2 linked regions of the Homo sapiens genome follow. The protein of the gene in region 1 purifies or fractionates together with the protein of each later gene. This does not show direct contact. Each region holds a gene or a part of one and is shown on either strand. Other genes may lie near its edges.

Evidence for each region. Proteins that work in one complex are often made in the same cells at the same time.
Region 2: the proteins of INPP5B (region 1) and BCAT1 fractionate together in Homo sapiens (co-fractionation; one large-scale study listed by BioGRID). This does not show direct contact.

Annotation. Positions count from the first base shown.
Region 1 is NC_000001.11:37,873,005-37,878,506, reverse strand, and holds part of INPP5B (type II inositol 1,4,5-trisphosphate 5-phosphatase isoform 1 precursor), read left to right. Parts: exon of another isoform or gene 1-183; coding exon 184-319; intron 320-2,790; coding exon 2,791-2,901; intron 2,902-4,351; coding exon 4,352-4,514; intron 4,515-5,341; coding exon 5,342-5,502. UniProt on the Homo sapiens protein: Hydrolyzes phosphatidylinositol 4,5-bisphosphate (PtIns(4,5)P2) and the signaling molecule phosphatidylinositol 1,4,5-trisphosphate (PtIns(1,4,5)P3), and thereby modulates cellular signaling events.
Region 2 is NC_000012.12:24,809,524-24,813,101, reverse strand, and holds the end of BCAT1 (branched-chain-amino-acid aminotransferase, cytosolic), read left to right. Parts: 3' UTR 1-3,078; downstream 3,079-3,578.

The DNA.
Region 1 (5,502 bases):
GATGATACCCACAGGATACATGTTATCCCTTGGTGGGCCCGAATTGCTCTTGCTGCCTCAGATGACTTAGCCACATGGACATGAAGGCCCTGATTCATCACTCCCCACCTGAGCCAGGGCACTCGCCAGGCAGCGGGCACTGCTGTTTCTGTGAGTACTTCCAGTGTGGACTTTGCATTTCAGTGAGAAGTGCCGTGCTCCTGCCTGGTGTGATCGGATTCTCTGGAAAGGGAAGAACATCACTCAGCTGAGTTACCAGAGCCACATGGCCCTGAAGACCAGTGACCACAAGCCTGTCAGCTCAGTGTTTGACATCGGGGTAGGTGGCAGCTGGTACCTGTTGTAATCATTCTGGAGGGAATTGGCTTTCACAACTAAGACCATTTCTTGTCTTTCTGGTTTCTTCCTCTCCTTTTGAGAGGGAAGAAGCCCCTTTTAGGACAATTTAAAACAATTATTAACAACTTGGTTAATAATTGTTTTAGTATGCCTCTGCATTTTTCCTCATACATGGAAGTTCCCTTTTGCATTTTTGAACTGTCTCTTTGCAGACCTTTCTCTATGCGTTTATAAATGGGTGTGTCAGTATTGTGTATACAACATTGAGGATATTTTTCCTTTTTTGTAAAAGAGATCATATTATACATTTTGCTCTGAGGACATCTTTTTTTCCCTGACTGAATATGTCTTAGGAGATCTTTCCAGGACAGTGAAGGTAGAGCTTTCTTCTCATTATTTTTAAAGGTTGCAAAGTATTCCATAGTATGGATGAGCCATAATGTATGTATTGATGATCATAAAGTTATTTCCAAAGTTTTGCTATTATACACAGTGCTGTTGTGACCACCCTTCACATGTATGTTTGTGTATCAGTGTATTTCTATAGAATGAAATTATTAGAGATGAAATTAGCGGTTCAAATAAAAAATGTATTTTAAATTTATTAGATCTTGCTAAATTACCCTCACAACAGTTTTACCACTTTATACTTCTACCAACCATGTATAAGTTTATTTTCCCATACCCTTGTCAATATTGGGTTTTATCAGTCTTCAAAATTTTTGCCAACCCAATAAGCAGATATTTTATCATGTTAGATTACATTTCCCTGATTACCTATGAGATCAGCATCTTTTTCTTCCTTTCCTTTTTTTTTTTTTCTGTTGAGATGGAGTCTCGCTCTGTCACCCAGGCTGGAGTGCAGTGGCGTGATTTCAGCTTGCTGCAACCTCCGCCTCCCGGGTTCAAGCGATTCTCCTGCCTCAGCCTCCCAAGTAGCTGGGATTACAGGCACATTACACCACGTCTGGCTATTTTTTTGTATTTTTAGTAGAGATGGGGTTCGATCTCCTGCCCTCGTGATCCACCTGACTCGGCCTCCCAAAGTGCTGTGATTACAGGCATGAGCCACCGCTCCCAGCCTTTTCTTTTTGTTTTTTTTCAAAAGACACTGTTTTGTTCTGTCACCCAGGCTGGAGTGCAGTGATGCAGTGGCACAGTCACAGCGAACTGCGGCCTCAATCTGCTGGGCTTAAGCAATCCTCCCACATACATCAGCCTCCTCAGTAGGTAGGATTACAGGCATGCCTGTATGTGTGTGTCACCTTACCTGACTAATTTTTTTTTTGAGATGGAGTCTTGCTCTGTCACCCAGGCTGGAGTGCAGTGGCGCCATCTCGGCTCACTGCAAGCTCCGCCTCCCAGGTTCACGCCATTCTCCTGCCTCAGCCTCCCGAGTAGCTGGGACTACAGGCAGGCGCCCGCCACCACACCCGGCTAATGGTTTTTTTTTTTTTTTTTTTTGTATTTTTAGTAGAGACGGGGTTTCACCGTGTTAGCCAGGATGGTCTTGATCTCCTGACCTCGTGATATGCCCACCTCGGCATCCCAAAGTGCTGGGATTACTGGCGTGAGCCACCGGGCCCTTTTTTTTTTTTTTTTTTTTTTTTTTTTTAAAGAGACAGCATCTTGCTGTCTTGCCCAGACTGGTCTCAAGTGACTCCTGGGCTCAGGTGATCCTTCTGCCTTGGCTACCCCAAGTGCTGGGATTACAGGCATGAGCCTTCTCATTTATTTATTATCTATCTGTGGTGGCTCTTTATTATCATTACAATGCCTCACACCTGTAATCCCAGCACTTTGGGAGGCTGAGGTGGGTGGATTGCTTGAGCTCAGGAGTTCAAGACCAGCCTGGGCAACATGGCAAAACCCCTCATCTCTACAAAAAGTAAAAAAATTAGCTGGGCATGATGGCTTGTGTCTGTGGTCTCAGCTACTTGGGGGGCTGAGGTAGGAGCATCACTTGAACCCAGAAGGCGGAGGTTGCAGTGAGCCAAGATCACTCTATTGTACTCCAGCCTGGGTGACAGCAAGACCTTGTTGCAAAAAAAAAAAAAAAACAAACTTGAGAAACACTGCTTTAAATCAAAGCCTTAGAAAAAGTTCTCACTGCTGGCCTGTTGGTGGCAGCAAGCAAAATAGAGCTAGGTACTGGGCAAGCATTTTTCTGCCCTGGTCCTAAGACCTGGCAGAACTAACTGCTAACCATGCTTTCACTTCCATGTATTTTTTTCTGGTAATCAGGAAGCAGATGCCTGTACCACAAGCTTTGCCTCTGGCAGATCCTTCTAAGTCAATTGTTAATGGAGTTCATTAATTAACTAAATCTATAGCCTTTGTTTTCTGTGTTGCTATCAACTGCTATTTCCCAGTGCTGTGAATGCCGTCTATACTGAGAAAGAGGAAATGGGCAGAAGCCAAGGTACTCAGTCTCTGATGTTTCCCTTTCAGGTGAGGGTCGTAAATGACGAGCTTTACCGGAAGACACTGGAGGAAATTGTTCGCTCCCTGGATAAGATGGAAAATGCCAACATTCCTTCTGTGTCCCTGTCCAAGCGAGAGGTAGGAAGGACATGTTAAGAATATTAGCATTGGGCTCAGGCCGGGTGCAGTGGCTCACGCCTGTAATCCCAGCACTTTGGGAGGCCAAGGTGGGCAGGTCATGAGGTCAGGAGATCAAGACCATCCTGGCTAACACGGTGAAACCCTGTCTCTACTAAAAATACAAAAAATTAGCCGGGCGTGGTGGTCGGCACCTGTAGTCCCAACTACTCGGGAGGCTGAGACAGGAGAATGACGTGAACCTGGGAGGTGGAGCTTGCAGTGAGCCGAGATCGCGCCACTGCACTCTAGCCTGGGCGACCAAGTGAGACTCCATCTCAAAAAAAAAAGATTAGTGTTGGGCTCTTCTATTCCTAGAGCTTAAATCTCCTCATCTATTGGAGCTCAGAGTTCTAGGAGGCACCTATAGCACTATGGACTGTGGTCTTTCTTGATAGACTGCTTTTCGATAAAGTGAGGCTGATGGTGTTAGCTGAGAAGAGAGAGGTTGTTGGCTTAGGTCATCATGTCCTATTCTTCTAAACCAGAATATGGTTCAAAATGTGTTTTGATTTTAGAATAACTATTGTGTATTCTTGCAATGGATTTTTCTTCTTACTGATGCTTTGCTTTGAGATTAAATTGAGTTTGGATACCCATGAGTTAATGGGAGGGAAGACAGTATAGAAAAGGAATAGGTAATATAGGAAGTTGAATATGGTCTGAAGGTTTTTCATGGAAGAGCCACATGGAAGATCACTCACACTTGACATTCTACAAAGTCAAATTGGGGTTTAAGGTGAAGGCGTTTTTTGTTTGGTTTGTTTGTTTTAAACAGAGTCTTACTCTGTCACCCAGGCTGGAGTGCAATGGCACGATCTCGGCTCACTGCAACCTCCGCCTCCTAGGTTCAAGCAATTCTCCTGTCTCCGCCTCCCAGTAGCTGGGATTACAGGCTGTGCCACCATGCCTGGCTAATTTTTGTATTTTTAGTAGAGATGGGGTTTTGCCATGTTGGCCAGGCTGGTCTTGAACTCCTGAGCTCAAGTGATCTGCCCGTCTCGGCCTCCCAAACTGCTAGGATTATGGGCCTGAGCCACTGTGGCAGCCGCAGATGGCATTTTTAATGCCCTAGATGTCCAGCTACTTGGAAGGATGGGCTTGATCTTCATGTTTAGAAGTGGAATTTGTGAAGGGTATTTTGTAAATGGTTTTTGGGTATAGAAGATATAAACTTTGACTTCTTCAGGAAGTAGACATACAAAAACAAACGGAATTTTTGGATTTTGGGTTAAACACAGATAACTAGTCTTTAGTGGGAACTGTGGCCTCCCAGGTAGATACTTAAAGCAGAAACATTTAAAAGAGATGGTTCATTTTCTTTCCATGGTAAGGACTGCCCAGTTGGGGTGGCTGGGCAGGTTGCTGAGGAAAGGGCACTGGTTTTCACTGGCCCCGGGCTTCTTCCCAGTTCTGTTTTCAGAATGTGAAGTACATGCAATTGAAAGTAGAATCCTTTACAATTCATAATGGACAAGTACCCTGTCATTTTGAATTCATCAACAAGCCTGATGAAGAGTCTTACTGTAAGCAGTGGCTGAATGCCAACCCCAGCAGAGGCTTCCTCCTGCCAGGTAAGGCCTCTGTTCCTAGCTTCCTGGTATCTGGTTTGGGGAATGCCTTACTCTATATTTGCTCATTTTCCTAAAATGAGCTTTTTGCTTGAGTGTTTTATTCTCTGCTTGAGGCTTTTTAAAAAGCCCTATAGATGAACCCATTCATGAATAAAATAGAAAATAGTGAGGAGCATGAGTTCAGTTTCAAAAGCATTCTCAGTCATTTATGTGTTCCATAATTTCACAGAAAGAGAAAACATAAAATTGCTGTATAGCAGGTGCTGCTGTTAAAGGAACCATTTTACTATCTTGCTATAATCAACTCCCAATTATCTGCTCTTGATAATGGGGAAGTAATCCAGAAATTATATCTGGCTCTGGAATGTACCATCCACATTTTTCCCGACTTCTCCTTCGCACTCTGCATGGTACTCTGTGATGGAACAATGAAGGGTGTTTTGTGGACAATTCACAGGCCGATAATTGCGTTACACTTCTACTGAGTCAGTCATCTTCATCTTACCTGGCTCAGGGAAGGCTCTTTGATCCATGCCTTCTTATTCTGTTAGTATTTCTAGCTTGAGCTGTGCTCCTTAGTGCTTGAATTTTATAGCATTTGTCTATTCAAATGTTTTTGTTTGTTGTTTTCATATTCCCAGTTGGACTATAAACTCTTTGTTCTTGTGTCTCCTGCATGCCAAGCACATTTGGATGCTTGTTGGTTGGCTGATACCTTTTCTTTCCTTTTCCTAACCCTTTATGCCTTACCCTCTTCCCTCCTGCCTTCTTTCCCCTTTCCTCTTGGCCTGCCCCCGGCCAACATTATTTTTAAAATTTCTCTGCAGATTCTGATGTTGAGATTGACTTGGAGCTCTTCGTAAATAAGATGACAGCTACAAAGCTCAACTCGGGTGAAGACAAAATTGAGGACATTCTGGTTCTGCACTTGGACAGGGGAAAGGATTACTTTTTGTCTGTGTCTGGGAACTACCTGCCCAGCTGTTTT
Region 2 (3,578 bases), on another chromosome or scaffold:
AAGGCATGAAATCAGTCTTAAAAATTGAAATGGGGGTGATGGGGGAGAAAAAGAAGAACAAATTTGAAGTGCCCTTTCAAATCTGCTGGATACAAGTATTGAAGTTTTAAGTCATCTTATTCTGTCTGAAAGTGTATTTTTCATTCTACAATAGACCCAATCAACAAGACGTATAACTTGAGTTGCATGATGTTCAGTTTATGTAATCTACTGTTGGGATGGTAAGAATTGATGTAGGCTGTGGTGTAAGAATGAATTAAAATATAGTTTCACTGGCTTTTCTCTACATATCCACTATCACAATGGCTAGGTTTCCTGTTGCTCACTATTGGATTCTGGAGAAAAATTTAATGAAAGATGATATCAGAGGAAGAATAAGTGGAGGTAGAGAAGAAAGGAATGATAGAGGAGGGGAAAAAAACAAAACATATTTTTGTGTTATCCAAAGGAGCTTTTTCCTTATTCTGTCAAGCATTGAGATCTTCTTCAGCTTTCAATGTAGTTGCTAAATACAAATAATGCTACTAGGTAGTGACTAAATATAGCAAACACTTCATCAGATATTAGAATTAGGTCACACTATTGAGGTTATAATCTGAAGGTTGTGTTACATAGAAACCACTTTAGATTATTATCAACTTGGACTAGGCTTTATTTTATAATAGCATAGTAAGTAATATCTATTGTGTCATTTCTTCAACCATTTTATTCTAAGATCCATGAAGCTTCTTGAGGCCAAATAAAATAATAAGTTTAGACAAGAAGTAGATTGTGACTTTTTTCCCTTAGAGATACTATTTACTATCTCCTATCCTGATAGGTGGAAGGTTTACTGAATTGGAAATTGGTTGACTATTAGTTTTTAACTAAAATGTGCAATAACACATTGCAGTTTCCTCAAACTAGTTTCCTATGATCATTAAACTCATTCTCAGGGTTAAGAAAGGAATGTAAATTTCTGCCTCAATTTGTACTTCATCAATAAGTTTTTGAAGAGTGCAGATTTTTAGTCAGGTCTTAAAAATAAACTCACAAATCTGGATGCATTTCTAAATTCTGCAAATGTTTCCTGGGGTGACTTAACAAGGAATAATCCCACAATATACCTAGCTACCTAATACATGGAGCTGGGGCTCAACCCACTGTTTTTAAGGATTTGCGCTTACTTGTGGCTGAGGAAAAATAAGTAGTTCGAGGAAGTAGTTTTTAAATGTGAGCTTATAGATAGAAACAGAATATCAACTTAATTATGAAATTGTTAGAACCTGTTCTCTTGTATCTGAATCTGATTGCAATTACTATTGTACTGATAGACTCCAGCCATTGCAAGTCTCAGATATCTTAGCTGTGTAGTGATTCTTGAAATTCTTTTTAAGAAAAATTGAGTAGAAAGAAATAAACCCTTTGTAAATGAGGCTTGGCTTTTGTGAAAGATCATCCGCAGGCTATGTTAAAAGGATTTTAGCTCACTAAAAGTGTAATAATGGAAATGTGGAAAATATCGTAGGTAAAGGAAACTACCTCATGCTCTGAAGGTTTTGTAGAAGCACAATTAAACATCTAAAATGGCTTTGTTACACCAGAGCCATCTGGTGTGAAGAACTCTATATTTGTATGTTGAGAGGGCATGGAATAATTGTATTTTGCTGGCAATAGACACATTCTTTATTATTTGCAGATTCCTCATCAAATCTGTAATTATGCACAGTTTCTGTTATCAATAAAACAAAAGAATCCTGTTTGTGTGGTTTCATGAAATCAGCATTGTTGAATGCATGAAGTAATAATGCTAAATTAACATTTTTATGATGTCTCAAGGTTTCTGGTCAAGGGAAGTAAATGTAGGATAGTATTTTTACACCAAAATGACACAGAGAGAATTGAGCACACCAGAAAGACCAGAAACCACACCACTGGATAGAGATTCAATATGTTTCTTTTTCAAACATTTGGACAAGAAAAAAATGGGCATTTAAAAATTCTTCCTTCCCCTGGTTATGGATTTATCTGTAGTAAAACTTAGCTTTGTCGTTTGAGATTTGCACAGAATGGGGGGAGTAGATTACCTCTTCCCATTCATTGTCATAATGGATCTACATCACTGATAAACACCATACTTCTATATGTGGTTAACTAGCTTTAGAATAAAAGACACTTTAAAAAGTAAAAGGCCTAGAGATCTTCAATGAAGTGTCCCTTTTAGCCAAACCAGGCCTTGCAGAAATTGTCCTCAAAAGCACCAAGGGAGAACAAAGCCAAGTGCAGAATTACCCAAGGGTCACACATTTTGTATTCATTTTCTTATAATTTGCCCAAATGATTTGAAGTACAGCAAAACCTGAAGTTTTGCAAAGAGTTACTGTAAACTGAACTTAAAAATGTCAGAGTGCTCGGTGACCCACTTCTCCAGACCCTGTCAACCTGTGAAAATATTGGCCTTTATTCAGATCTCTCAAGAAGTTACGCGCAGAGTTTGGAAGGTCTAGGCAAAGGTTATTAGTCAAGTGTTCTTACAGTGTCAACGCTCAATTCCCACAAGCGTGAGAAAGAGAGACCTGTCATTCCTGAGGGTGATGACATACATTTACTGGAGCTTATATAATTTATCAGATAAGACAGCAGTTTCCTTCAGGGTAGAAAGTGTGTTTTCTACATTGATTTAGTACAAAACAAAAAGAAAAGGGGATATTTCAAATTTTATAATTATTTTTCTGCTAAGCTGATTCAGTGTGATTTAAGCATATTTTTCAAATCATGAATCTGATTCCATATACATATGTGCCTTATATTGTGATAATTTATTTTTAAGTGAAATATGCTATCATAGCCTGACTTTATGTATAGTGGTGACAACTTGCAGGATCGCATTTCTGTAACCAAACGGCCGACAGCTGAGGTGTAGATGCTTCCTATGGTCTGTAGAATAATCACTGGGCTTGTTCTCTAGCTATGTCTGTATGCAATCGCGACAGTGTTGATCAAAACCCATGATCATTCTCTCCAAAGGTCTTTGTCACTAAGCCACTAGGGATTCTGAAAAGTTCGTGAGCTGAAACAAATAAATTGAGTTGGAAGATTCATGTTGACTGTTTGTATCCCAAATGCAATATACCAGTTTTTGAAGCTGAACTGATTACATTAAAAAGGGATCAAGCTGCATTTGTTTTAAAGATAGTTACATGACCAAAAGTTGCTCAACATCATTGGTCATTAGATATGTGCAATCAAACCTGCAATGAGATATCACTTCACCCCAGTTAAAATGGCCTATATCCAAAATGCAGGTAATAACAAATGCTGGTAAGGGTGCAGAGAAAAGGGAACCCTCTTACACTGTTGTTGGGAATGTAAATTCATACAACCACTATGGAGAACAGTTTGGAGGTTCCTCAGAAAACTAAACATTGAGGTATGATATGATCCAGCAATCCCACTGCTAGGTATACATCCAAAAGAAAGGAACTCATTACATCAAAAAGATATCTGCAATTCTATTTTTGTTACAGCACTGTTTACAATAGCTATGATTTGGAAGCAACCTAAGTGTCCATCAATAGATGAATGGATGAAGAAAATGT